Linked DNA regions of Homo sapiens. The protein of the gene in region 3 interacts with the protein of the main gene of each other region in a biochemical or structural test. Each region holds a gene or a part of one and is shown on either strand. Other genes may lie near its edges.

Region 1 (7,172 bases), on a different chromosome or scaffold from region 3:
TTCTGCAGTTGTATACCCCAAGCCCTCAACAGGGGCACCTAGCCAAAAAGCTTCACTTCGTCTGAATAAATAAACAGTTATAGGGTCCAGCTGTATTTTCAGGCTGACTTGTTAAATATTGGCTGCAAAAATTCTTAAGGGCATTGATATCAGATAAAAAGCTCTGTGATGTGATCTCGCTGCAGACATTGCATTGCAAGCACTCTGGTCTTCTGTGAGGGAAGGGTACCAACCAGCTCCACTTGGGGGTGCAAGGAAAAGAGCAACGCAGAAAGGGGGAAGCCCCCAAGAGACATGAAGTCTTTAGAGAGAGCCTCTTGATGGGGTAAATGCGAGCAGAGACCTGGGACAAGCTGGCTTTTCATACCCTCACGGATTTCTGCCACTCAGCAGTTGAGTAACAGTCCTCCTCTGGCCACCCTATTCTAGATATGATTAAACAGATTTCTTGTAAAAGAACCAAACTATTTTCCTTTGTAGGAAAACAACAGAGACAGAGAGGAAAACAAAACAAGGATCCTGATGACTGACTGCAGGAGGCAGAGAAAGCCAGGATCCCTGGTCAGATTTTACCGAAGGAGAGGAGAGTCCTTCCTCGTCTACAGTCCTCCACCTCCCAAGCCAGAGTCCATTTGGAGTTTGTAGAGGTGCCAAGAGAAGAAAAATAGAGTCCATAGCAGGACAGCAAAAACTATTGTCAGGGTTTCTGAAAACTGTACCATGGAGTCTGAAAAGAACTATAGGCTATGGACTAAGAATAGCAAGGCCAGCCCTCAGTCAAGTGGACTTTCCCACTGTCCTACCACAGAGTGATCAGCGGCTCACACAAGCTAATGACACATTTAGGAATTAAGAGCGTCAATGCATACTAGCTGTCTGATAAAATTCCATCTCTTCCCTTATTTCTCTCTTTTTTCAACTTTGGCTTTCTAGGACTTATGTTCTAGCTTCAGTAAAACACTCAAGCTAGCCAAAATATTGGCAAGGAGCTCCTATGGCAGAAGTGCTCAGAGACTGATCAGGATGTGTGCCTGATCTACCCTTACCATACACCTAGGAACACAGCTGGGCCCAGAACCTAGGACTTTCACTCTATGACTTATTCTTGCTTCAGACTTAACTTACATCCTTCTTGGGCATATATTCCTTCTAAGAGGGCTATGTGTTGAAAGGACATAGGCCTTCGATCTATTATGGCAAAAGACATGGAAGACATGCATGTTGACAGACAAGCCTCTCTTATGTCAACCCTGTTTTGCTACTGAAGCTGGTCTGAGTTTAGAATCCCTTACAATTGTCTTTCAGGAAACCATGACCAGTTGGTTCAAGTAAGTACAATACTGAAAATGAATTTCTTGTCTCATGCTGCCTCGAGGAGCCAAATGTGAGTTACAAGTCAAGAATATCAAATGGATGTGGGGTTGTATAGTAGAAGTGGGAGAAGGGCTCCCTGGGATGCTCAAATCTTATGCTGTAAAACCCTCTGGGAGTATGAAATCTCTTCCGATGCATCATCATTTTATGAGCAAAAGCAAAAGAGTCATACTTAATTTTATCTCTAGGCACCTACCTAGACCCACCAGGGGCCCCACTGGGGCAGGAGCACTTGTTTTGAAGAGATCCAGAGGGTTGGGCTGCAGGGCTGTAGGTTGTCCTGTGGGTGACGCCTGGCCTGAAGGTTCTGAGACGGGAGGAGCAAAGATGTCTGATGCAAGCAAGTCATTGGCTGAAGACTGACAGGACAGGGAGGGAGGGAGAAGCCTTAGTTACTCACTAACAGTGAAATACAGCCTCATTTTGTCTCCTACCCTATACCCCAATTTGAGAGCCACAAAAAGGAAAACTTTTTTCTTGACAGATGAACAACAACAACTACTACTACAGAAAAAGAGTCCTCCAAAAAAAGACACAGATTCCTACAACGGACGGACTACTGAGTCTTAGTGTCTGACACTACCTAGGACTTGCAAAGTGAAATCTACTATATTCCTTTACACACTCACATTGGTCTGGTCTCATCGCTAAATGCTTGAAGTTGGGGGAGCAAGTGTGTAAAAGGGGCAACTACCAATAAGCATCCTAAATATTTTTGTTCATTCCATTGGATTTTAAGTCAGTCTACATAGAGATCATAGGGTCTTAATCCAGGCAAGCCTGTATATTCTTAGGAGAGGTAAAAAAAGACACCTATGGGAACTGCATTTTAAATTGCTCTTAAATAAAGCTGAGATCATAGTGGTAATAGTAAATACATAAGCTTAGAAAAAGCTTATGTATTTACTCAGTATTTAAAAGAGGAGATAAGCTCGAGAATTTTATACCACCACCATGGACACTGATGCAACATGATGGGTGTGCAGGGCATGTGTTAGTGTCAGGGAAGTACAAAGGGAATCACAAGAACTCTCACCCTCCCAACCCAGAACACGATGATCAAACTTACCAGAGGTATAGAAGCATAGCAGCATTAAAAATGGAAAAACTTGTGTTTAGTTTAATCATAAGTGACAAGACATGCACACGGAAAGCAGGGTGTGAAAAACACTGCTGAGAAGCTTAAAAACGGTGGCAGTTAGAGGAAAGTACTCCTGGAGAACCAAAGTGCCTTATCCCACCTTCTATTTCACAGCAACACAGGAAACTACGAGAGCAGCAGGAAAGAGAGCTTGCATCACACCACCCTTTGGTACCGAACATGCACTCTGCTAATGGATATGTGGAGAAGACAATTCACCTTAGCAGTCCTTCTGCCTCTTCCTGGTTTGGTACTTTGTGGAGGTGGGATAATGGCTATGGAGTCATGTGGTGAGGACTGGACAGAGCTTTCCAAGTCCTGCTTTACGCCATTCTGTATGGACAGTCCTTTGGGAGGGCTTCCCACAAAAGGGTTCGGGGAGGATTTGACAGAGAAGCCGTTCTGTTCTCTTTCAGATACCCCATTTTGAGTTCTCACTGCTGGCTGGGTTTGCGAACTTGAAAAGGGCCATGGGCCTGCCTGAGCTTCCTGTTTGCCAGTCCGGTTAGAGATCTGGTCAAATTGCTGACCAAAGTAGTCAACATCACCATTCAGGGGCCCATTACTCAGCGGAGTAGACGAGCTACTCGAATTCTCTTTCTTCTGATCTGGAGATTTGAGAGAATCAAACGAAGAAGGTGTCGATTGGTCTGGCTGTGTGAAAGGATCGTCACGGAAAGGATCAGGATTAGGGGTGGGAAAGAAGTTGAGATTGGCAGAAAAGGCATTTTCAGGCAAGAAGGATGCCTGAGGCGTTGGTCGAGGAAGAGAACAGGAGGTGATGCCGTTTGTTAAGAATGGATTTTCTCTTAAAGAATTCTGATTGGTGTCGATTTCAGAGTTTAGATCCACTAACAGGATATCTTTGCTTTCCTATCACATTTGGAAAGAAAAAAAAAGAAAGTGTTAGTCCATGTTGTGACTTCAAATGAGAAAATTACATAAGATGACTAGGATTATCAGAATTTCCATTTGAATTTGGTCTTGATAAATCGGTTGATCATTACCTCCTTCCATCAACCCCCGTAGTCCATTACTCCCTAGCTATAGACTAGGTCCTTTCTATTCCTCCCCAATATCATGCCCTTTTATTTAAGTCTCAACCTCATTAGGTGAAATCTTACTGTTGCTTACTTCATGTCTCTGCTCACCCTGGTTCACACATACAGACTGGCTTAATTCATTATGAGCATTGTTTCAATTTGTGACTTTGAAAGTCTTAAAGGGAATTGATTGTGAGTCACTATAAATGATTATCAAAGTATGTTGAGCTTGAAAGTAAGTGATTTCAGAAGCTTAGCTCAGCTTCCTACCTATACACATACAGTCCTCTCTATTGTACCCCCAGAGTCATGTAGGATCATCTCTCTAAATGAGAAAATTCATCGACTAATACATTCATATTTTATAGTTCTGGCTGTGATGAAATTTAAGATCAAATGCATTTCCCTAAAATCGGTCCAGTTCTTTCCTCTAGAGGTGGGAGAGAGGCTTTTCTTTTATATCACGGCCTTCAGGTATGTCTCTTAATATTTAAGGCTCTTGCTGAAGCTGATAGTCAAGTAGGATCTCATCCTCATCATCCCAGTCTCTCCTCTGGGCTTACCCTTTTTGTCTATGTCCTCTGAAAGAGACACTCAATACTGATCTAATTTAGTCAATCACACATTAAGATCTCCTATTTGTACATCTTTTCATAACATTGCTTAGAGTTGCCTGTGTTGTGACAGTAATCTCATCTATTTAGTGGTTAAAGTCAACCAACAACTGATCTTTAATTTATATACAGTAGTCCCTCCTTATCCTCAGGGAATATGTTCCAAGGCCCACAGTGGATGTCTGAAATGGCACATAGTGCCAAAACCTATATACAGTATTTTTCTCATATACATACACATGATAAAGTTTAATTTATCAATTAGGCACAATAAGAGATTAACAAGTAATAAAATAGAATGATTATAACAATATGCTGTAATAAAAGTTATTTGAATGTGGTCTCTCTGTCTCTCTTCTCTCAAAATATTATATTGTACCGTACTCACTTATTTTCAGACCAAGGTTGACCACAGACTTAATTTCAGAAAGTGAAACTGCAGATAAAGGGGGACTATTGTACAAGGTAGAGACATGGGTTTAAGAGTTAATTTGAAAGACATATCAAATATGTAGCTCTACTAATTCTATCCCCTCTCTATCATTTCTCTGGTGTGTTAATTTTTTGGATTTTCAACTGTTTGATAAAAAATTCTCAGCTTAAAAGCAGTAAATTTGATGAATCCGACATGTCTTTATTCCAGTAAAAGACAGAATTATAACTCATCCTAGAACAGAACTTTCATACTGACATCACTTCCTTCTGCTTGACTTTGATCCATTAAATACTTAACTATGCTACCCAGAGAAGAATATAAATGATAAAAAATGCCTTGCTGAAGTGCAAGTTATAGTAGTTATCTTGCATTACCCTGAGCAGAATACTAAATATTTTGATCATTGGGGAAAATAAACAACTTCAAGGGAATATAAAATTTGCAAACTAGTAAATACAAAAGGGTTCAAATAGAACTCCTTGGCTTTTAAAAGAAAAAAAAATACCCAATTGTTTAGAAAGTTTAAGTCCTATTTCATGGCCACAAAAGAGACAGCAAAATCAGACCTAAATGGTAATCTATCTTTTGGATTCCTTTACTGTGAGGCATAAAAATACAGTTTTTATAAGCCAAAGCCAGGCTTTCTCTTTATAAAAGAAGAATTTGTCACAAGAAAGAGCTTATAATTAAAAAAAAATTTAATCAGAGAAATGGATTGGAAGAGCTATTAATCTAGGGATCTTTATACAATCAAAAGGTAGGATAAAATGTATTACAAAAGCTTGTGATTTCAATATTTATTTATTTGTTTTGAGCCACCTCTGGGTTAGAACAGTTGAGTGTTCACAGCTGGTAGAGTTCTCGTTTTCAAATACTTCAGAAGAAGTTCTTAGGACACCAAACAGGAGCCACAATGTTAGACTTCTGAATAGTCACCCTATAAGTAAAATGTATAAGGCTCTCCTCAGGCTGGGTTTGTTATTAATCCAAGATTAAAAGTGTAGTTCACAGACTACAACTGAGAGCCCAAAGACTCCTCATCCACCCACTTGGTCAGCGCCTCATTCATTCTTTGTCGAACTGTCAACACTGCCTCCAGTTGGCCACTGTTTGAGCACCTGAGCCGCACGCACTGGAGACACGGCAGTGCGTTACAGAACCTGCTCGTAGGGAGCTCCAGTAATCGGACATAAATCCTGAGTTCCATAGCCTAGCTCTTCTCTGGGTGGCTAATCTCACCTAACCATTCCAGTTTGTCAGACTGAGGACTTCTCTACTCAAAGCCTTAAGTGGCTTACTGCTGGCTCCCTATATTAAAATAAACCTCCTTAGGCCAAATTTCCAAATGATCCACAATAAGACCCACGTTGTTTCTAGCCCAACTATGATCTATTTTCCTACACACTTCAAAGACCCAACTCAAATTCAGATTCTTTACAAAGCTTTTAGCATCGATTTTTCTGTCTGCACTTGCCCTGTGCCCACCCGTGTTATCTTATGGCATGTACACAAGGACATAAGTGACACTCCTGCTTTGTATCCTGATCCCATCCCTTGTACCAGATTTAATCTCCTTGATCACAGATCATGTCTTATATTCTTTCCATAGTAACTGTGCTTTCAAGTGGTTGTTAAAGTTGCAGAACATGGGTTTTTATGTTTTTCTTTCTTTTCCTTTTTTGAGATGCAGTGTGGAAGGATAATGCTCAAGGGGCTTGCCAATAAAAATTCTGTTCTAGGGGATACCACATAGTTTGCAACATGAGCATTATTTGAAACTCATAAAACTTTTCTGTATAAATTTGAGGGGAGTGACAACCATCTAGGACCAATAATAAAGTCTAGGTAATTTAGATTTCTTTCTCTCTTTACATATTTCAGAGCAATTGTTGAAAGAGTTGAATATTTTTAAACATGCTGGCTTTACCAAGTAGAGATAAATCTATTTTTGACCTATGACTATAGAGTCAATAGATAAGAACATGTCAAAGCCTAACCAGCACATAATTAGATCTGTTAGCCTTCTTTTGGTTATCAGAGAGTATATATTTTGATGGTATTTATTACTTTATTGTTAGTTTAACTAAAACTTGAATTCCTATAAATAAAAAATTCTTAGACTTCATAAAGTCTAATAAAAATGAGACTGAAGATTATCCATGTTGTTTTCCATTTCCTTTTTTAGAACATTCTAGAAGTCTACAGAAGTAGATTATATAGGCAGTACTTCCTTGCCTATTCCAGTGGAATTCCACTTCATATCTTGAGTGCTTTGCTCTCTTTGAATATTACTTGTTTGAATGTCATTTATACTTGGGAAGTAAGTGTTCAGATACTGATTTATTTGAGAAAACATCACTAATGGAGGAGAGCACAAAGTTGACTACAAATCAAAAGGACCTCAGAGTTAGGATGGACCTGTCAGGATAATCTAGTCTAGTACTTTAAAAAGTTTATCCTCAGAACTATAACAAAAATTATGAAGAATGAAAGGTTCTATAGGCAAGTGAGTTAGGGCTCACTGCTAAAATGAATATTAAACAGGCTTCTCTCTTAAAGGCATT
Region 2 (7,172 bases), 4.4 Mb from region 3:
GTGCTGGAGCACCCCTCACAGTAGGTGGGGGTGGCACGCCTCGAGTCACAGTGGCACCTCTGGTGATGGCTCCCCTTACTGGTGTACCACGTACCAAAGCCCCCCGAGGTGGTCCAACACCACGGCCCCTACAAAATGAAAGTTTATCTTAAATGGAGCTTTTTATAAACAGGCCACTTTTATGTTCTGATTTGTTTACAAATTCTGGAATTAGGCAGATTTTATGAAGCCTTAACTAGGCTATTATTAAAGCACAGAGGAATGTACAGGGTAAAGGACCCACACTGCAAGATCCCCCAGGTCCTATAGAGGACCAATTCATCACTGCACTGCCTTGGGTAGGTCTGGAGAGTCTGAATACTCTATAAAGGTCAGTCACAAAAGGTAGAATTTTAAAGTCAGACCATTAACAAATGCTAAGACTGTCCAAAATTAGAAGACCAAAAGTTTCAGCTAGACTGCAGCACTTGGCTATGGTCAAAGTGCCCAAGATCTAGAACTCTATTTTTTTTTTTTTTTGAAATGGAGTCTTGCTCTATCTCCCAGGCTGAAGTGCAGTGGCATGATCTCGGCTCACTGCAACTTCCGTCTCCTGGGTTCAAGCAATTCTCTTGCCCCAGCCTCCTGAGTAGTGTGGTGTATGCCACCACACCTGGATAATTTTTGTATTTTTAGTAGAGACAGGGTTTCACCATGTTGGCCAGGCTGGTCTCAAACTCCAAATGTCAGTTGATCCGCCTGCCTTAGCCTCCTAAAGTGCTGGGATTACAGGTGTGAGAGTATGGTTGTAGAATTCTGTTCTTTATGCAACATACAAATCCTGAGACCCTTCCTAAGCTAGACATAAGAGCACCACTAAAAGAGATGACACTAGTAGTCAAATTCACATCCTATTTCTGGGTGTCTCCATTATTTTTACCTGGGAACAGGTGGTGGAGGAGGTGCAGCTCCCCGGCCTCTCACTGGCACCCCACGTCCACGAGAGGGTTCAGGTACTCCATTCAAGTAGGACAGCTCTAGAAATTGCTCCTGACAGATATCATCCATCATATCCTGGGAACGAAAGATACAAGGAGTATTGTGTGGTATCTACACTTTCTACTGAGAAATCATCTGGTCCACGGGAGACTTGAATTCTAAGAAGAGCTCTTGAGAGCCCAGATGAGGTCTCAGGTCATTCCTTCTCTGAAGTCAAATGGCACCCTATCTGTCACCTCTTTGAGAAAAGTCTTGATGGTAGACCCCTCATTATTCATAATGTGGTCTCTGCCTAGCTCTCCGGATCACTTCCATTCTCTCTCTATATATAACCTACTCACAAGCCAGACTGAACAACTTGTAGTTCAGAGCCTGGCATACTCTTACATATCCATTCTTTGCAAATAGTTTCCTTTTCCTGGAATAATAAAAGCCACTACCATTAATGGAGCTGTATGCACTTGGCTCTATATAATAAGCTTTATATAGATTTTTCAGTTTAATCTTCAAAATGAGGGCCGGGTGCAGTGGCTCACGCCTGTAATCCCAGCACTTTGGGAGGCCGAGGCGGGCAGATCACGAGGTCAGGAGATCGAGACCACCCTGGCTAACACGGTGAAACGCTATCTCTACTAAAAATACAAAAAAATTAGCCGGGCGCGGCAGGCACCTGTAGTCCCAGCTACTCGGAAGGCTGAGGCAGGAGAATGGCGAGAACCCGGGAGGCGGAGCTTGCAGTGAGCCAAGATAGCGCCACTGCAGTCCGGCCTGGGCGAAAGAGAGAGACTCCATCTCAAAAAAAAAAAAAAAAAAAAAAAAAATCTTCAAAATGACCCTGAAATAAGTAGGCAGATCTCCACATTTTACAGTTAAGAAAACAGACTCAAGGAGTATACATCAACCAGCTTAAGAACACAGAGCTAATAAATGGCAGACTCTAGATGTGAATTCAGAATTACCTGTCTCAAAATCTAGGTGTTGGATCAACAGGCTTTTTTGTCCTTATACTGTCTTTTTTGTCCACCTGAGGGATTCTTAATTCATCCTTACAAGACTTGCCTAAATAAGTGTCTCTTGAAAAACTTTCTCTTGATGCCACCCCTACAACTCCTCTTTTCTCAAAGTACCACATAATTCCCTATACCCAAGCACTTACCACATAATTTTAGAATTGTCTGTCACTAAACTGTAAGCTCTTTAGGAGCCATTTTTGTAACTTTACACCCAAGCATAGTATCAGACATCTGACAGATACTTAAGAAATGTTTGGGACGAACAAGAAACCTGAAGCTCAGAAAAGTGAAATGATAACCTGTTCAGGAAGACACAGATAGACAGACATACATAGTCCAGTGCTCTTCCTACGGCACTGTGAAGCATTGCTGGTATAGTTAATTGTTCTAAGTGGAAAATGGAGGGCTCTGGTCACAGATGCAAAAATAGCCTCACTTTTCTTTCCTCCACAAGAGGGAAAAATCAAATGCCACTGGCAAATCTTTTCACACTTCCTATTGAGAGCCATTCAGTCTTAATACTTCATGCATTTTTATATATCCCAGGCGTATACAGCTTCAATAGATGATGCTAGTCTTTGATGCCCCCCTCAACTCTCTAGCTCCTCCTACCTTACACATTACCGCTGCTTGAGACTCACACCTTGGAGAATCAAGTAACCAATGCCAGACCATTGCTCAGACTCCTCCAACTGCCACATCAACACTGAGGAAACCCACATCTCCCCGGCAAGCATCTTTTTCAAAAGATTCACTTACAAGCAAGCCTCATAAACCTAACCCTTCTGAGGAATATGAGGGAGACTAACAATGAAGAGAGGAGATGGGCATTCCCTCTGCAGTCCTTTGGAAATTGAATGGCTTGGGTGATCAATAGAACACCCCAAAAAGAGTAAAAAGAATTTCCTTAAGATTATTAACCAGCTGTGTTTTTCTCTAGGATATGTTAAATGGTCTGTTTCATGTTGAACATTCTTTTTTTTTTTTTTTTGAGACAGAGCCTCACTCTGTCACCCAGGCCAGAGTGCAGTGGCGCAATCTCGGCTCACTGCAAGCTCCGCCTCCCGGGTTCATACCATTCTCCTGCCCCAGCCTCCCGATTAGCTGGGACTACAGGCGCCTGCCACCACGCCCAGCTAATTTTTTTTTTGAATTTTTAGTAGAGACGGGGTTTCACCATGTTAGCCAGGATGGCCTTGATCTCCTGACCTCGTGATCCACCCGCCTCGGCCTTCCAAAATGCTGGGATTACAGGTGTGAGCCACCGCGCCCTGCCTCATGTTGAACATTCTAATGAAGATGAGGTACTTGAAAGCAAAGCAGCTGCTAAGACATTTGAGACTGTTGGAATCCTTGGAGTTCAGCATTATGGGTACACAATGCCTAAAAACTTATTTATTTATTTTTTTTGGAGATGGAGTTTCACTCTTGTTGCCCAGGCTGGAGTCCAATGGTGCAATCTCAGCTTACCGCAACCTCTGCCTCCTGGGTTCAAGTGATTCTCCCGCCTCAGCCTCCCTAGTAGCTGGGATTACAGGCATGTGCCACCACGCCCGGCTAATTTTGTATTTTTAATAGACAGGGTTTCTCCATGTTGGTCAGGCTGGTCTCGAACTCCCGACCTCAGGTGATCTGCCCTCCTCGGCCTCCCAAATTGCTGGGATTACAGGCGTGAGCCACCGTGCCTGGCCCACACTGCCTATAAATTTTTGCCCTATCAATTTTCACATCATCTGACACCACATTTAGTTCTAATTCCCTCATTTAACATTCAAGAAAACCAAGGACTGTATCTTACCTCCTCCTAGTTTTCTGATGAACACATGACGCTTACTCAATTCTACTTAATAATATTCCAAATCCTTCATAAGTCTCCAGATTCATCCTTGTTATTAAATATTCAACAGTAGTATGTTAACTCTGACAACCACCAGGCCTTGCTAAAAGGCAAAAATAGTACCATTTCCTATTTATTCAAAGTAATATTCCAACCAAGTATTCAAAGGTGGTAACAAGCAAGATAGATAAACTGGCCTGTCCCATCTCTATCTAGTCCTCAGTAATAGTCTGAAAAAAGCTGCTCACCTATCTGTTAAACATCAATAGTCAACCTCTTCCAAACTAAACTCGTCCTCAGCAAACTCCTCCAGGAAAGAAATCCCTGAGTGTGCTCAGGTCAGAATTTAACCCAATAACACTAGATGCTATAAGCTTCTTGCTGCTAGTCTCTACTCTCTACAGCATGAACTTCTTGAGTGCAGAGACCCACCTTAGTCACTTTCCTAACACAATCTCCTTGTTCCACACTACTACCAAAATACTCAGCTAGGTGAAGACCCTGTTAAACCTTAGTTAACCAAATATCAGAATGCAGGCACACTGTGGACCCGAGATACTGACAAGATACCGGTACACAATGAAAACCACATTAGACAAGGAGGGATAGAGTGGCCTTGGAGCATAATGCTTTGAGAACTAGGTGCAAGTAACGAACTACCTAAGGAAAATGAACATAAGTGCAGAATTTGGTATACATACAGGTTATGCAGAGACCTTAGTTAAGAACCCCTACCTTCACAACAGTATAAGATCCCAGTTCTCTTTTGCTCAGAAGACACAGGATATGGATTTCCTTACCGGTACTAGAAATTTCTTGACTTCCTCCATGGCATGGGCCATAAGAGCATAAGCCTCACATGGGGGTCCAAAGACTTCAATGAAGACATGCAGATCCATATTCAAGTGGGCATATTTGGGGTCTCCACCTTTGCGCAGCTCTTCCTCCTATGGAAAAATGCAGAGAAATGTCACACCATGGACTAGGGAGAAAACACCACCTTTACCTCTAAGCCAAAGGAACAGCAAGAAATACCCCTAATGTCCATGAAAAACAGTAAAGTTAATTGGTATGAGCTGAGAAGAATTAAACAAAAAAAGAAAAAAGAAAAAAGAAAAACAGTAAAGTTTAAGAAAGTAAAACAAGCAGCCAGGCGCGGTGGCTCACGCCTATAATCCCAGGACTTTGGGAGACTGACGCGGGAGGATCACAAGGTCAGGAGTTCGAGACCAGTCTGACCAATGTGATGAAGCCCCGTCTCTACTAAAAATACAAAAATTAGCCGGGCATGGTGGCGCACGCCTGTAATCCCAGCTACTCAGGAGGCTGAGGCAGGAGAATTGCTTGAACCCGTGAGGTGGAGGTTGCAGTGAGCCACTGCACTCCAGCCTGGGCAATAGAGCAAGGCTCCCTCTCAAGAAAAAAAAAAAAAGTAAAACAAACTCTCAAGAACAGTAATTTGCACAGCCTGCTAAACTTGCACATGGTCTGCTGCTTACAGTTAATTGTTGTCTTAAATCCCTGAGATATCCATTGGAGCTCCTACTAAAAGCATAAAGAAGAAAAACTTAATTCTAGTCTATTCAGATAATAGCTGTTTGCCAAGCATTTGTTTTTAAATCACAGGTAGAGCTGTTAATCACCACGAGCTCTGCTTATCTGCTTATATGGTCTAGGGAGTGGTAGGGGAAGAAAGAAGTCAGGACAGAGGGAAGAAAAGCTCATGTAAATCTCATTAGTTAGAACACACTTCAGCCGTAACTATATGCATCTAGCAAGAAATGACCTGAGAAAACAAACATGTGTCCATTAGACTACATAAAAGGAGGGTTGAAAGAATTGGTTTTTGGACTGTAGCAGGAATATCTCATCAAATAAGGTGACCCCAGAAGGCTAAGACTATTCTGTTTTGGTGAGAAGTTTCTTGTCACAGAGTACACAGCGTACGCGGCTATGGCATGGGGAAAAAAAAGACGCATTAGATTCTGTAGTCAGGATTACTCATGGTTCCTTTTGGAATACATTCTTTTAGTGAGCCTCACATTCCAAACCGGCTATAAAACAAACCAACTAATCCTCAAACTCATCTGCTCTCACATTATTGTTCTCACTTTTCCAGGTTACAAAAAAGGGGGTGTGCTATTTGCATTTTAGCGTCTTTTGTCTGCTTTAGACTAAATTTTAGTATATTCAGTTCCCCTTTCAAGTTTTCACAGACAATCCTACCAATGCGCAACATGCTACTGCTGTTTCCATTACTACACAGTCAAAAAGTCCAAAAGAAAACTATCACCAGGGCACACCTAGGCTCTTCCAGGGTTGCCAAGCCAAGTAAATTAACTTGGTGTATAATCTCTTGCATCCAGTGCAAACTTAAAGGAGCCACATTCTGTACACATACAAAATTCTTGCCGCCTCTATAAGACATCCATACTGCATTCTGGGCAAGTAGAAGGCATTAGGATGTCCTCTTGCCTCACTAATGTGAGCTTACCTTGGCTTTGTCTCTCATTGAGCCCTTTCCCAATACAGAGATCTTTGCACCAGTCTCTTCCTGCAGTCTTTTGATTGTATTCCCTTGTGGTCCAAGAATCTTCCCCACAAAATTGAACTGACAGAAAATAGAGGATTTCTAAATATACATGCTACTATATAAAAACATTTCCACATAAATTACCTCACTTGATTTTAAACAACCCTGCAAAGGTAGAGTATTACCATTCCCATTTTACTGAAGGACACTGAAGCCATATTAATAAAGTGATTAGCTTAAGGTTATGAAACTAGAAAGTGGCAGTTCCTAGACCTGAATTTGGCTTTTCTGATGTATTCTGGTGCTCTTCCATAATACATTAAGACCTTTACTATTTTATTTTTTACTTTATTTTGAGACAGGCTCTCACTCTGTTGCCCAGGCCAAAGTGTAGTGACACAATCATGGCTCATCACAGCCTCAACTTTCTGGACTCAAGTGATCCTCCTGCCCCAGCCTCCAGAGTAGCTGGGTACAGGTGCACACCACAACACCAGGCTAATTTTTGTATTTTTTGTAGAGATGGGGTTTCGCTATGTTGCTCAGGCTGGTCTTGAACTCCTGGGCTCAAGCAATCTGCCTGCATCGGCCTCCCAAAGTGCTGGCATTACAGGCATGAGCCACTGTGCCTGGCCCAGCACTTAACATACATCAACATTTTTAAGGCAGTGACCTCAGAACAGAAGAGACTATATAGCACCCTTTGATAACACGCTGGATAAACTAAATGTAACTAAATGCTTTCCTAAAAAAAAAAAAAGGAAGAAAAAAAGCATTTACTTAAAAGTAAACTTTTAGTAAGAAAATAAAA
Region 3 (7,769 bases):
GTGTCTCATTCTGTCGCCAAGGCTGGAATGCGATGGTTCGATCTCGGCTCACTGCAACCTCTGCCTCCCGGGTTCAAGCAATTCTCCTGCCTCAGCCTCCTGAGTAGCTGGGATTACAGGCGTCTGCCACCATGCCCAGCTAAATTTTTGTATTTTTAGTAGAGATGGGGTTTAGTCATGTTGGCCAGGCTGTTCTTGAACTTCTGACCTCAGGTGATCCACCCACCTCGGCCTCCTAAAGTGCTGGGATTACAGGCGTGAGCCACCGTGCCCTGCCTTCATTAACCCCCTTTCATCTCACACCATCCTTTCTTGAGGCCTCGAAACTGCCTCCTGAAGAAGACATACCCACCCAACCCTGTCTGACTCCACCACCACCGTGGTGAGGCCAGGTGTGTGCAGGATCGGGGGTGGCCTTTACCCTCCATGTGGTCCCGAGGCCATTAGCAGTTTTTTCCACTTCTTGTGGGTAAAAGTGGTTTTCCACCTGTTGCTGAAAACCACCCACCAGCCTCTAAAACACAGCTCTTTAGATGCCATCTGGCCTGGGACTCAGGATTTTCAGGAGATGGAAGCCATGGCGGCGGGGGGCGGGGGTCCAGGGGCAGCCAAGGGATGGGAGTCTAGATTTCACAGTGTGGCCAGACAGGAAGCCCCCTCCCTGGTCCCTCAGGGGAGTGGGGCGGTGAGGGGGACATCCTGCCTTTTCCCACCTTAGGTCAGCCCAGTCTGCTCTGCGTGGGAAGAGCCCTGGCCCCTACTTCCCCAGCTCTGGGGTTCCCTACCCAGCCTCCTGAGGTCTGGCCACTTCCTTTGCCACATCAGCCCCAGGTGGCTGCAGAGATCACCCAAACATCCACTCATATGCTCAAGGGTTCATGCTCATTCACTCAGAGCCCAAAACATACAAACACTCACACCCTCACTGGAGGAGGGTGTGAGAGCACCTACTCACTGGAACAGGAAGTAGTCATGAAGCCCCTAAACCCCACACCCTCCTCCCCGGAGGGTACATGAAACTTGGTAGGGATGAGGTAAGGATTCAGGCCTCAGCTCAGGCTACATCAGAGACGAGATGTCCTGGAATTCTGGTCCCTACTGTTGGCCCTGCAGGTTGCCAACTCCCAAACCTCCATCTTCCCATCTGTGAAGTGGGAACAGGGTCCTGCTCTCCCATCATCACCACAGTCGGAAGGATGCCAAGGACATCAGGGCCCCTGAGAGTACACACCCGAGGGGCGGCCAACTGGATGCAGCACCAGAGAGGGTGTGAGACAGATTTTAACTCTGCTGACCTCCCCAGTATGGGCTCTCATCAGAGCCATAAACTATTTAGACGCCAACTGTGTGCTGGTCCCTGGAGGCCCTGTCAGTGAGAGCCGGGCAGTCTGGTCCCCCTCCATGCTTTTTGTTGTTGTTGTTGTTTACAGACAAAATCTCACTCTCTCATCCAGGAGCTCTCACTGCAGCCTTGAACTCGTGGGCTCCAGCGATCCTCCGGCCTCAGCCTCTGGAGTAGCTGGGACTACAGCAGGTGCCACCACTTCCAGCCTTCTGGCTAACTATATTTTTTTGTAGAGACAGGACGGGGGTCTCCCTGTGCTGCCCAGGCTGGCCTCCTCTGCATGTTTTTGAGAAGGTGAAGGGGAGGCTCGCTGAGTCAGGGATAGCCCTTAACCCTTCAGGACACTCAGCAAAAACTGCTTTCTGCACCTGATTCTCGTGGGGGAAGAGTGGACACAAGGATCATTTCTCACCATAGTTCAGATGAGGAAAGTGAGGCCCAGAGAAGCCCTGTAACTTGCCCACAGTCACACAGCAATTAAGGGCCCAGTCTTGCTAAGAACCCAGGTCTCTCAAACAGCAGATCCTCCACCCCAGGATCCCTGAACACAGCGGCATCGCCTCCTACCTCGGTCGGGAAGCCCACCCCCCACCCACCAGACCGAGGATTCCAAAAGGGGGCGAAGGCGGAGAGCAAAGGGGGCTGCGCCCACCCGGAGCCCCGCGGCGGCCCAGCGCGGCCCGCCCTCTCGTTGCCTTGGAGGCAGCCCCTGCGGGCACTCGCGGTCAAAGGCAGGATTTCCGTCGGGGCGGCAGCAATTCCCGGATCCAGCGGGGAGCGCGGGCCGAGACCGCCGCGGGCGCGGAGGGGGCGCCCGGAGAGGCCTGTCCCTGCCGAGGGCGGGGACTTCCCCAGGAAGCGGGGACCCACGCCTCGCGCGCCCGGCAGGAGTCCCCTGCAGCCCGGAACCTACCGCAAGGGCGGGCCGAGAGGGTCGCGGGGCCGCGGTCGCGGCCGCTAACGTTACCCTGCGGGCTGTGGGCTTCACCCCGACTTCGGCCGGCTCGGAAGAGGGGAACTTCCTGGACCCGCAATTGCACCCCAGGTTCTCCGTCCTCCAGAAGTCGTTCTCCTCAACCCCCTTCCCGCCAGCTCCCTCTCCTGTTCCCTCCAGCACCCCCACCCATTTCCCCTCTCCTGGACCCATCAGACCCGTCGGCTTCTCCCCAAAGTCCCACTCTCACGATCCCTTCAGTTTCTCCCCCAGACCGTCCTGGGGATTCCCCTTAATCCTTCTCCCCCACCTCAGCCCCCTTCCTAAACTCTTATCAGTCCCCTCCATTTTACCCACTAGACCTTTTTGGGGGTCCCTTTGGTCGGCTTCCCCCGTGCTCCCCTCCGCCCTCTCCTCCAGGTTTATCAGCCTTGCTTTTCAGGTCGCCCGTTTTCCTCCTTAGGCCTTTTCGGGCTGGGGTCCCTTTGGCTGTCACCTTGCTCATGTGTCCCCCGACCCCCAGGTTCAGGCTTCTCTTCCCGTGTACCCCCAGTCCTCTCTCCAGAGCCTCGAGGGGGAGGGCACTGCTTGACCTGCCCAGTCCCCACCCGACGCTGTCGCTTACCTGGAGCCCAATTCTGCCCGGCCCCGGGGTGAGCCAGCCGGGGCTCCAGCAGCCGCGAGTGCCGGCGTGCGGGGAGAACTGGGGTGCTGCCCGCCTCTGACCGCCGCCCCTGCTGGGCAGGGAGGAGGAAGCCGCCTCGGACTTCTCTTATTGCAGTCACGGCCGGCGGGCGGTGATGGTGGCAGGGAGACAGTCACGCCCTAGCCCCAAGCCAGCTCCCCGCAGCGAGGAGGCGCCCCCAGATCCTAGGCCCACCCGCCCCCACCTTCCTCCTCCCTGGTTTACGGGAGGTCGGCTCTGTCACCCTCCAGACCTGAGTCCCCAGCCCGGCCTTCCCAAAAGCCCCCTCCAAAAGCGCAGTTTCAGCACCCCCGAAGCACCTGCTCTTTTAGGATCATTGAATTGGAGGTTAAGAGGGGCTTTTCTCCATCACTGAGGACCAGATCGGGACTGGCCTTACTCGAGTTCTCACAGCCAGTTGACTTCAGACTGCTGTCACCAGAGCCACTGGACATGGATCACATGGACCCTGTCAGCACGCCTTCCCTTCCTCAGGGGCTGAGCACTGGGGACACAGGGCTGTTAAGGGTGGTGAGCAGCAGAAGACCCTTCCCTTAGGAAACTGCCTTTCAGAGGAGTGGGAAGGGTGTCAGCCTCCCCCAGGCACCCAAGTTTTAGAAAAACTGAGTAACTGGCTGGGGGCAGTGGCTCAGCCTGTAATCCCAGCACTTTGGGAGGTTGGGTGGGAGGATTGCTTGAGCCCAGGAATTCCAGACCAGCCTAGGCAGCATAGGGAGACACCATCTCTACCAAAAAAAATTTTTCTTAAGTTAGCTCGGTGTGGTGGTGTGCACCTGTGGTCCCAGCTACTGCAGAGGCAGAGGTGGAAGGATCCCTCGAGTCAGGCAGGTCGAGGCTGCAGTGAGCTGTGATTGAGCTACTGCACTCTACCTTGGGTGACAGAGCAAGACCCTGCCTTAAAAAAAAAAAACACAAAAAAAGAATGTGGGTTTTGTTGCAGAAAATGACTTTTTTTAAAAAAAAGAAAGAAAAGGCCGGGTGCAGCGGCTCACGCCTGTAATCCCAGCACTTTGGGAGGCCGAGGCGGGTGGATCACGATGTTAGGAGATCAAGACCGTCCTGGCTAACACAGTGAAAGCCCATCTCTACTAAAAATCAAAAAATTAGCCGGGCGTGGTGGCGGGCGCCTGTAGTCTCAGCTACTCAGGAGGCTGAGGCAGGAGAATGGTGTGAACCCGGGAGGCGGAGCTTGCAGTGAGCCGAGATGGCGCCACTGCACTCCAGCCTGGGCGACAGAGCGAGACTCCGTCTCAAGAAAAAAAAAAAAAAAAAAAAAAAGGAAGAAAAACTGAGTATCTTAGAACATGTGGAAAAAGATTTTTAAAAACAAAAAGAGAAACGGTAGCATCCTCTATCAGTTCCAGTCTCTCTGTCTGATAGGGATCCCTGACCCCTCCTCAATCTGGGGTTCAGTCCCCACTCCCACCACTGTTACTTCAGCCTTAAAGCAAGAACCCGGAATATCCCTCCTGTCCAGGAGAGGAAGAGGTGTGGTGGGGAGGGCTGTTTGGTGGAGAAGGATGTGTCTGTTGGGATGTGGTGAGAGGCAGGGAGAGTGTGCGTAAACACAGAAGTGTGTGTGTGTGTGTGTGTGTGTGAGAGAGAGAGAGAGAGAGAAAGCAATGACATGATGACTTTGCTTTTGGAATCAACAACTAGGCCATGGTGTGCAGGCAAGTGTGTTTCTTTGTATGGGCAGGGGCATGTGGGGATGTGTGTGTGCATGCGTACACATGCTCAAGTGTGGCCCAATGTGCCTGGGGTAACAGAGTGGTGGGATGGAGATAAGAATGCTTTTCTCTTAGGAAATGGGAGGAGGGATGAGGAGGAAGACAGAGGAGCCAGTGGCAGTGCAGGGTCTCTGGAAGAGTGGCTTCACCCTAGCCGGGCAGCATCACCTCCGCCATCAAATGCTCCCTGCCTGGCCATCGGCCCACATGTTCAATTAGCAAACAAGCAAACGTTTATAATTGTGTCTTAGGTGCCAGCCTTAGGGAACACAGAGATGAGAGACTGGTCCCTGCTCTTGGGGGATCCCCCCAATCTATCATGCTCGCTCTGTCATCCTTCAAGGTCTGACTCACAAGCATCTGCTCTAGAGGCCTTCCCTGATTGCTGCCTCTACCCACTCCACACCCCCAGCAGAACCTCAGCATCTTCTGCCTGGGGCACCACTGGTTCCTGGGGGATGGGTGTGTGGGATATGTTTTCCTCAAGGGCAGGGGTCTGGCTCTTGTAGATGCCTCCAGTACCCACACAAGGCCCAGCACACAGTAGCAGGCTTTCTGTGTATAGGAACACGTGAATCAACCAAAGGACAAAGGAATTAACAGATGAACAAAGGAAAGCCCAGTGAAAAACTAAATAATGGAAGGTAAGAAAGAATGAATGAAGAAATTCAAGAATTGATGACTGAATAAGCAAATGAATGGAAGAACAAAATGACAACATTGCTTCTCAGGCCGGGCTCGGTGGCTGACGCCTGTAATCCCATTGTTTTGGGAGGCTGAGGCGGGCGAATCACTTGAGGTCAGGAGATCGAGACCAGCCTGGCCAATTTGGTGAAGCCCCGCCTCTACTAAAAATACCAAAATTAGCTGGGTGTGGTGCCGGTGCCTGTAATCCCAGCTACTCAGGAGGCTGAGGCAGGAGAATCGTTTGAACCCAGGAGGCGGAGGTTGCAGTGAGCGGAGATCACGGCACTGGACTTCAGCCTGGGCGACAAAGCAAGACTCCGTCTCAAAAAAAAAAATTGCTTCTACTTTTTAAAATATGTGTTGGGCCACATTAGTCCCTTGCTTAAAATCTCCCAGTGCCTTACCTTTCATTTTGCTTGGAAAAATAAAAATACAATACATACGATACCATAATAATAAAGAATAATAAAATCCAGCAGCTTTGTCTTGTCCTCTGAGGCCCTGTGTGCTTGGCCCCTGCCTCCTCTCCAGTCCCAGCTTTAGCCATCTTTCCCTTTACCCACATTTGGATCTTTTTCAGTTCCTAGAATACACTGAATTTTTGTCTCACAGTCTTTTTACATGGTGTTCCCTCTTCCTAGGATGCTCTTCTTCTTGCTCTTCACAGTACTGCTTCCTTTTTATTCTTCAATTGAAGTGCCGTCTCCTCAGGGAAGCCTCCCCTGACTGCCACATCTAAGAAGGTCTCCTTATTCTCGGTCTCAGCATCCAGTTTGTCTCCTCTATGGCTATCACAATCTGGAATTATATATTTCTGTGTTCATTGTTTTTTGTCTCTGGACCTCTCTAAACCAGATTAGGGCTCTGACCCAATCTGAGGTCAGGAGACAGCTGGCACTTCTTAGGACGAGCAAAGTGGATTCTATGCCCTCATTCATCCTTTCAGAATAACCTTGATTAGGAACACAGACTCTGGGCCCAGGCTGCCTGGTTTGCAGACCAACTCTGACCTTGGACAAGTTATTTCACCTTTTTTTTTTTTTTTTTTTTTTAGACAGAGTCTTGCTCTGTCTCCCAGGCTGGAGTGCAGTGATGTGATCTTGGCTCACTGTAACTCCCAGGTTCAAGCGATTCTCCTGCCTCAGCCTCTTGAGTGTCTGGGATTACAGGCGTGAGCCACCACACCCAGCTAATTTTTGTATTTTTAGTAGAGACAGGGTTTCGCTCTGTTGGCCAGGCTGGTCTCAAACTCCTGACCTCAACTGATCCACCTGCCTTGGCCTCCCAAAGTGCTGGGATTATAGGTGTGGGCCACCGCGCCCTGCCCAAGTTATTTCACCTTTCTGTACCTCAGTTTCCTCATATGTAAAATGGAAATTTAGTAGACCTCACCTCACAGAAGTCTTGAGAGAAATCAGTGAGCTGTTAGAGGAGTGTTTGGCACATAGTAAATACCACATAAGTGTTCACTATCATTCATTCATTCATTCATTCATTCAATTAAACCTCAACTCTCTGACCACAGTTTCCTATCCTTTCAGCCCATGTATTCACAAGCTCCTTGAAAACAATTCTAAGTCAGGTATGGTGGCTCACACCTGTAATCCCAGAACTTTGGGAGGCTGAGACAGGAGGATCACTTGAAGCCAGGAGTTCGAGACCAGCCTGGGCAGCCCAGGAGTTCGAGGCTGCAGTGAGCCATGGTTGTACCACTGCACTCTAGGCTGGGTGACAGAGCAAGACCCTGTCTCTAAATAAATAAATAAAACAATTCTAAAAACTGATACCAAAATCAAAAATCAAAGCCCAGCAAGCCCAATGAGACCTCTCTCATCCATTTCCCAGCTAGCCATCACTCTCCTCCTCTTCTCACTCCTGCTTTCAACCAGCCTAGATTCTGCTGTCAGTCCTTATGGTCATTCGTTGCAAAGACCTGGCACTGTCCGGCCTCCCTCTCCCTCCCTCTCCCTCCAGTGTACCTGCCTGGAAAACCCAGGCCTGCAGGAATCTAACCATTACCTTCTTTTTTTTTTTTTTTTTTTTTTGAGACAGAGTTTCGCTCTTGTTGCCTAGGCTGGAGTGCAATGGCACGATCTCAGCTCACCGCAATCTCCTCCTCCCAGATTCAAGCGATTCTCCTGCCTCAGCCTCCCGAGTAGCTGGGATTACAGGCATGCGCCACCACGCCTGCCTAATTTTGTATTTTTTTTTTTTTTGAGATGGAGTCTCACTCTGTCGCCCAGGCTGGAGTGCAGTAATTTTGTATTTTTAGTAGAGACAGGGTTTCTCCATGTTGGTCAGGCTGGTCTCGAAGTCCCAACCTTAGGTGATCCACCTGCCTCGGCCTCCCAAAGTGTTGGGATTATA
Region 4 (7,000 bases), on a different chromosome or scaffold from region 3:
TTGTTCAGCTGCTGCTTTGTGTATGGTTCCACGGACTGGATCTGGGTCTTACCTGTCACAGGACATGGGAAGGAAAGATCATGGAACCTACAGCTAGGTCATCTCAGAGAAAACTGCCCATTTTTTCTTTCCTCGAAGGGGAAAAGACTTAAGCCACCCTAGTGTTGAGACCCTGAACACCCTGTTCAGTGGCCTGGCACTGTGGAAATATTCAGGCTGGCTTCTAATTAAGAAGAGGCTACTAGTTGGGTCATAGAAAATAAACTTGAATATAACTACTTGCGTAAGATATATTAACAGGGTTAAGTAGAAAAAGAGATGAAGAATACAATTTAAATTGCAAAATTCTCAACAAATAGTCACTGGAGCAAGCAAAACAAAGCAAACCAATCCTTCAGCTGGAAGGATTTAGAAGTCACGCAAATGTGTTTTGCGAGTCTGAGTGAAACAGGGAGTCAAGGCCATCTCCACCCACCAGGGGGCAGTAGGTGCTTGCAACTAGAAGCAGTGATGAGGCCTCAGCAGCCACCAGCAGGTGGGGTGGGTGGGAGCCTCCCTTACCGCTGATGTCCTTCTCCACCCAAGTGAAAGTGACGCCTCCTTCTTTGCTGCTTTCACTGAATCTTAGCAGGAAGGTGCCTGGAGGCTTAGTGCTCAAGATGGCCCGCTCCCGCTCCTTACTGATAAAGCCCATGATGTACCTGGAGCCAAGGAGGAGGAACAATGTTGTTATTGCTAACAGGGCATCCATCCCCTGCCACTGGCTTGCTGAGAGCAGGGGACTTGGTTACATCTGTGCACACTCTGTCCAACCTACCCTTCGTTCCAAAGGGCCAGGATGTACTTTTTCACAAGGTCAATGATATTGTCCAGCCAGACCCAGAAGGAGAAGCCCTTGCCAGCCATGTTTTCCTGGAGAAAAGAGTAATGGGAAAGCCAAGTCTACTGCCATCCCAGCCCTTCCCTTCCTAGGGGTGCAGTGCATCACCCAAATCCTCAGGCCCGTCTACCTTCAGGCAGGTCCTACTGGCCGCTGGACCAAGAGTTCAGGGCCTTCAAGCCAGAGCCCTCAACGACAGCCGTGCAGGTGAGCATTCCCATTCCCACGAGAATTTAACAAGATTGCTTACTTTGCAAAATTTAGCCCATGTGATCTGACACCCTGAATAATTCACACCAGGTCCTGAAGGAAAGAAAAAGAGTCAAGTAGTACATTTTCAGCTTGGGGTCAAGAGGTTATTTCTTAAAACAGAACACACACACATTCATCCCACAATGGGCCACAAAATAATCAGCTTTCACATCTTTGAAGGTAGGCACTGTTGTGTGTGTGCACATGAGGACAAACACTATCCCATCATTTGACTCACTTGTGTTGCTGGGTAGCCCAGCAGGGATGGAGGGTGATATAACAAGTCCCCCTGCTCTTCCCAACCTCGGGTGGTAGGCTGGGAACCAACAGCAGCACTCACTAACAAGCTGACATCGGGTGTCAGACAGGTGTATTTGGTGGCAACAGCTTTATTAGAACAAAGCTACTTCTAGCCCAGGTGGCACATAAAATATTCCACTAATTCTTTTTTAAAAACTAGCCTACGCTGGGCACAGTGGCTCAAGCCTGTAATCCCAGCACTTTAGGAGGCCGAGGTGGGCGGATCACGAGGTGAAGAGACGGAGACTATCCTGGCCAACATGGTAAAACCCCGTCTCTACTAAAAATACAAAAATTAGCTGGGCGTGGTGGTGAGCACCTGTAGTCTCAGCTACTCGGGAGGCCGAGGCAGAAGAATCGCTTGAACCCAGAAGGCGGAGGTTGCAGTGAGCCGAGATCACACTACTGCACTCCAGCCTGGGCAACAGAGCAAGACTCGTCTCAAAAAAATAAATAAATAAATAAAATAAGACAAAAAAAACCAACTAGCCTATAGTTTATTAAAAAAATGGACAGGGAATGTCAAGCCTTTAGTGCCACCTTCCAACACACACTTAAAAGATCTTCTAAAGTTAGATAGAGTGGGTGAATGAGACAGCAACCAGGAGAAAAGAAATCTACCTCCCACCTCAAAAATGATCACCTCGACTGAAAACTGCAAACTGTCTCTGCACCCCAACTCCCCAACTCCCCTGTTTCCTGGCACCAGCACAGCGCCTTGCTCAGGAAAGAAACATGGCCTAATGCTCAGTAGACATGGCCCAAATGAACAGCCCTATGGGCCGGATCCCTTTTCTGGGCGGGTGGGCGGGAGGGAGAAGGGGTGAAATGCGGACCCAAGAGTTTCTCTGCCAGTGTAGTCAGCTGCTCGATGCTCAGTCCTCGCTTGGTGGTGGAGGAGAACTGCCAGCTCAGGACCTCGGCCACTTGATCCCAGGTTCCAATTGGGGGCTTGGTAAAAAAGTTTACATTCTATTGGAAAGAACACATTTGCTTGTTTAGATGAGGGATGGTGCTCATTGTCTATACTAGGTACCCCTAAGTCGCAAGAGATCCCGGGGCACCAACTAAAAGGAGGGGGCACTAACCTTGGGATTGTTGGTCAGCATGTTGTACCACAGGATGGACGCCCAGGCATTTGGCATCTGACAGATGTTGGAGATCACCACAACTGGCAAGGAGTGGGTCTGCGGAGGGAGTGGGGACTGAGCTGGGGAGGCAGAGGGGCTCTCACAGCCTTGGAAATCTCTTCACCCGCATCTCACGGGGCTCAGAATGAAAGGACATGCCATAAACCACACCTGCTGCCAACTCTAGGCGAGGAGTGTGAGTGAGTCAGCTCAGTGAGCACTCATAGTGGAAAGAATGCCCAGCGTGGCCACACAACTCAGGCTGCAGTCGGAATATACCGGTCCCTTGTAAAACCTGACTTGCTCAAAGCTTGACTCACAATCCACAGATTCCCCATTTTTAAGACCTTGGAGGCATTCTCCAAGACTTGAAGCTGTATCTTCACATGAAACAGGGAGGTCTCAGGAATCAAAGACCAGGATTCCTGCTTTTCTAGGTATATCTTAATTTAAAAATCAAGAAAGTTGGGAAAGGAGAATGTCATTGCCACAATTTTCTGTATACTAAACACACTGGCTGCTAAGACTCTTATGCCCAAACTTTATAAAGTCAGTTCTAATTTCTTTTTTTTTTTTTTGAGACGGAGTCTCACTCTGTCACCCAGGCTGGAGTGCAATGGCACAATCTCAGCTCACTGCAACCTCTGCCTCCCAGGTTCAAGTGATTCTCCTGCCTCAGCCTCCCGAGTAGCTGGGATTATAGGCGTCCGCCACCATACCCAGCTAATTTTTGTATTTTAGTAGAGACGGGGTTTCGTCATGTTGGCCAGGCTGGTCTCGAACTCCTGACCTCGTGATCCACCCGCCTCAGCCTCCCAAAGTGCTGGGATTACAGGCGTGAGCCACCGCGCCCGGCCAATCAATTTCTAAATAGAGATTTTCATATCAAGTTTGCTGAAAGCTGAATATACACACATCTTCTAAGCATTCAAGCAAGACTTTATTGCCAGATGGGATGCCAAGGATTTTTTTGGAGAAAAGTAAGCAAAAATAAACACAGTGTTAAGCAAACAGTAATCATTCCACCTTCTCTTGTAAAAATCCCAGTGGAAGTTTTTGTCCTGAGTCACCCCTGTACGTAGCCTCTCACCGATTCTGCTGCAGAACTTACCTCTAGGTCAATCTTGAGGCCTTGGTGATACACCTCGGTCTCAAAGGTGATCAGGTGCAGCTCCTCAGTCACAATCAGGGAAGCCTACAGTAACGAGAAGGACACTCTTAGGCCAGGTGTGGTGGCTCATGCCTGTAATCCCAGCACTTTGGGAGGCCAAGGCAGGAGGATTGCCTGAGCCCAGGAGTTCGAGACCAGTCTAAGCAGCACAGCAAAACTCCATCTCTGCAAAAAATACAAAAATTAGCTGGGTGTGGTGGTGCACACCTATAGCCCCAGCTACTCGAGAGGCTGAGGTGGGAGGATGGCTTGAGCCTAGGAGATGGAGGCTGCAGCGAGCTATGATTGTGCCACTGCACTCTAGCTGGGGTGACAGAGTGAGACCCTGTCTTAAAAAAAAATTAAATTAAATAAAAAAAAAGGCTGAGCGTGATGGCTCACACCTACAATCCCAGCATTTTGGGAGGCCGAGGCAGGTGGATCACATGGTCAGGAGTTCGAGACCAGCCTGGCCAATAATTTGGTGAAACCCCGTTTCTACTAAGAATACAAAAATTAGCTGGGTGTGGTAGTGGGCGCCTGTAGTCCCAGCTACTCAGGAGGCTGAGGCAGGAGAATCGCTTGAACCCAGGAGGCAGAGGATGCAGTGAGCCGAGATCACGCCACTGCACTCCAGCCTGGGTGACAGAGTGAGACTCTGTCTCAATCAATCAGTCAATCAATAAAAAAGAGAAGGACACTTTTCCTCAGAGAGAATGGCATTCAGTACTAACAGCCACAGCCAAGGAAAGTGACATGCCAAGCCTCACCACACCAAGAAGGGTAAGCCACCAGGTGGTCACAAACAAACTGCCAGGGACACAACTTGCTCGGCACTTACTCTCTTCAACACCAAGAACTTCCAATGCTGTGATCCTCAACCTAATCCTTTACTCAGTTTGTATTATAATATTACATAGATCCAATTGGTTATTTGTAAAATACGTAAGGCACAAAGAATAACAAAACAATATGAACCCACCATTCAATTTAAGGAAAAGTCCATCACTCCTAAAATTCTCTGGGTGCCCTTCCCCAACCCCATCCCCTTCCCTCCTCCCTCAGAAATAACTGCTATTTTGTCTTTTGGGTTTATCATTTCCTAGCCCTTTTTGTCTTGTTTTGTTTTGTTTTTTTACAGTTTTACCATATTTGTTTATCTAAGCAATGCAGGTATTGTTTAGTTTGGGACATTTGTGAACCTTACACTTATGGACTCCAATGAATTCTTTTGGGATTCACTTTTCACTTGATGTGAAATGAATCCACATGGTTATGTGTATCTGCAGTGTATTCCTTTTCACAGCTGCGGAGTATTCCATTGTGTCTATACCACAAATAATGTATTCATTCTAATGTTGATGGGTATTTATTTGGGTTGCATTTAGAGCTTATAATCAGGCTGATGTCCACTTTATATATGTCTCCTGGGACATATATGCAAAGATTTCTCTGCTATTAAATCCTGGGAATGGCACCGTTGGTTTACAGGTATGTTCATTTTTATACTGCCAAATTGTTTTCCAAACTGACTACAACAATGTCTCACATCAGTACAGCAACCTTATTTTAAGTAAGAGTTGTCAATGAATTCTCAAAAATTGAATTCTAGTCTGGGCACAGCGGCTCATGCCTGTAATCCCAGCACTTTCGGAGGCCGAGATGGGTGGATCACGAGGTCAGGAGTTCAAGACCAGCCTGACCAATATGGTGAAACCCTGTCTCTACTAAAAATGCAAAAATTAGCCAGGCGTGGTGGCATGCACCTATCGTCCCAGCTACTTGGGAGGCTGAGACAGGAGAATCGCTTGAACCTAGGAGGCAGAGGTTGCAGTGAGCTGAGATCGCACCACTGCAATCCGATAGAACGAGACTCCGACTCAAAAAAAAAAAAGAAAAAAGAAATTAAATTATAATTCATTTTTAATACTATTTTTCTGATTATAAAAGTAATATATTCAGTTTAAAATGCAAATATCACAGAGACAGTCTAGAATAGCCATGGATACCAACAGCAGCACTAATACACATAGCACTGCTGGTATATTCCTCCAGAATTTCTTAATATACATATGAATACACATAAGAGTATAGTGTATTTTTAAAACACATATACTAATAATACTATTCAAATTATTTTACATTTTGCTTTTTCTTAATATGTCATGTACATTTTCCCATATCATTGCATACAGGCTACTTCACTCTACTGTCAAGTAAAATTCCACATTTTTAAAAAGGACTGCTACATTTTATTTTATTTATTTTTTTGAGACAGAGTTTCACTCTGTTGCCCAGGCTAGAGTGCAGTGGCAAAATCTTGGCTCACTGCAAGCTCCACCTCTCAGGTTCAAGCGATTCTCATGCCTCAGCCTCCCCAGTAACTGGGACTACAGGCGTGCACCACCACACCCAGCTAATTTTTGTATCTTTAGTAGAGACGGGCTTTCACCATGTTGGCCAGGCTGGTCTTGAACTCCTGACCTCAAGTGACCAGCCTGCCTTGGCATCCCAAAGTACGGGGTGTGAGCCAGCACGCCCAGCTAGGACTGCTACATTTTAAAGAGGAAGAATTGTTCAGGGGACAAATGTAAGAAAAAGAACGGGGCATCACAATTTTTAAAAATGACTGAAAACTAGCCTTCCGTCACATTTACCTTTTTTTGTTTGTTTGTTTAAAGTTTATTCTTGACAATAAGAATCCAATAATCTGAATCAATGAAAAGCAGAAAATAAGGGGGATAAAGAACAAGATGGGTTTTTGTTTGTTCATTTTATTTTATGTACTCTTTTCCTAAGCAAGCTAATGCAAGGTGGTCATTTATTTTAAAGTTTAACTCAAATCTGTTGCTTTTACACCCTCTATCCCACCTCAGTGGGAGAGAAAAACAGGGCACTAAAAATGGAGCCAAGCAGGGTCAGCCGCAGGAGCTGGATGGGGAATTTGGAAAGCCCCAGGCAAGGTGGAAAGCTGCTTTATACCACATGGGTGTGGAGAACAACTCAGCAAGGGACTTTCCACTTCTCCTTAAGGAGGAGCCAACTCCCAGATATTCACGGAAATGTTCCAAGCCAGAGAGCTCCATGGCACATGGAACTTCTGTTCATGTCACTTTGGCCTGAAGTGACTTTTTGGAATAACTACAGCTGAAAGAACAGGTTGATGTTTCTAATTCTGGGGATTAAGAAGGATCTTTACCCCTCTCTCCCTCAAGGAAAACACCCCAGTTGTCTTTCATCCCCAACAAAACTTACATCACAATTGGCTCGGCCCCCATTCCCACATCT

What was found.
Region 1: the proteins of FGR (region 3) and DAB2 form a complex in vitro, tested with the Homo sapiens proteins (one study listed by BioGRID).
Region 2: of the proteins of FGR (region 3) and KHDRBS1, one has a biochemical effect on the other in vitro, tested with the Homo sapiens proteins (2 studies listed by BioGRID, with this or other methods).
Region 4: the proteins of FGR (region 3) and STAT3 form a complex in vitro, tested with the Homo sapiens proteins (one study listed by BioGRID).

The regions. Positions count from the first base shown.
Region 1 is NC_000005.10:39,379,884-39,387,055, forward strand, and holds part of DAB2 (disabled homolog 2), read right to left. Parts: intron 3,389-7,172; coding exon 2,735-3,388; intron 1,734-2,734; coding exon 1,571-1,733; intron 1-1,570. UniProt on the Homo sapiens protein: Adapter protein that functions as a clathrin-associated sorting protein (CLASP) required for clathrin-mediated endocytosis of selected cargo proteins.
Region 2 is NC_000001.11:32,030,791-32,037,962, reverse strand, and holds part of KHDRBS1 (KH domain-containing, RNA-binding, signal transduction-associated protein 1), read right to left. Parts: intron 6,440-7,172; coding exon 6,323-6,439; intron 4,776-6,322; coding exon 4,629-4,775; intron 1,054-4,628; coding exon 920-1,053; intron 129-919; coding exon 1-128. UniProt on the Homo sapiens protein: Recruited and tyrosine phosphorylated by several receptor systems, for example the T-cell, leptin and insulin receptors. Once phosphorylated, functions as an adapter protein in signal transduction cascades by binding to SH2 and SH3 domain-containing proteins.
Region 3 is NC_000001.11:27,632,161-27,639,929, forward strand, and holds the start of FGR (tyrosine-protein kinase Fgr), read right to left. Parts: upstream 3,026-7,769; 5' UTR 2,905-3,025; intron 1-2,904. UniProt on the Homo sapiens protein: Non-receptor tyrosine-protein kinase that transmits signals from cell surface receptors devoid of kinase activity and contributes to the regulation of immune responses, including neutrophil, monocyte, macrophage and mast cell functions, cytoskeleton remodeling in response to extracellular stimuli, phagocytosis, cell adhesion and migration.
Region 4 is NC_000017.11:42,322,443-42,329,442, forward strand, and holds part of STAT3 (signal transducer and activator of transcription 3), read right to left. Parts: coding exon 6,968-7,000; intron 3,758-6,967; coding exon 3,674-3,757; intron 2,620-3,673; coding exon 2,521-2,619; intron 2,405-2,520; coding exon 2,269-2,404; intron 1,184-2,268; coding exon 1,131-1,183; intron 913-1,130; coding exon 818-912; intron 702-817; coding exon 562-701; intron 53-561; coding exon 1-52. UniProt on the Homo sapiens protein: Signal transducer and transcription activator that mediates cellular responses to interleukins, KITLG/SCF, LEP and other growth factors. Once activated, recruits coactivators, such as NCOA1 or MED1, to the promoter region of the target gene.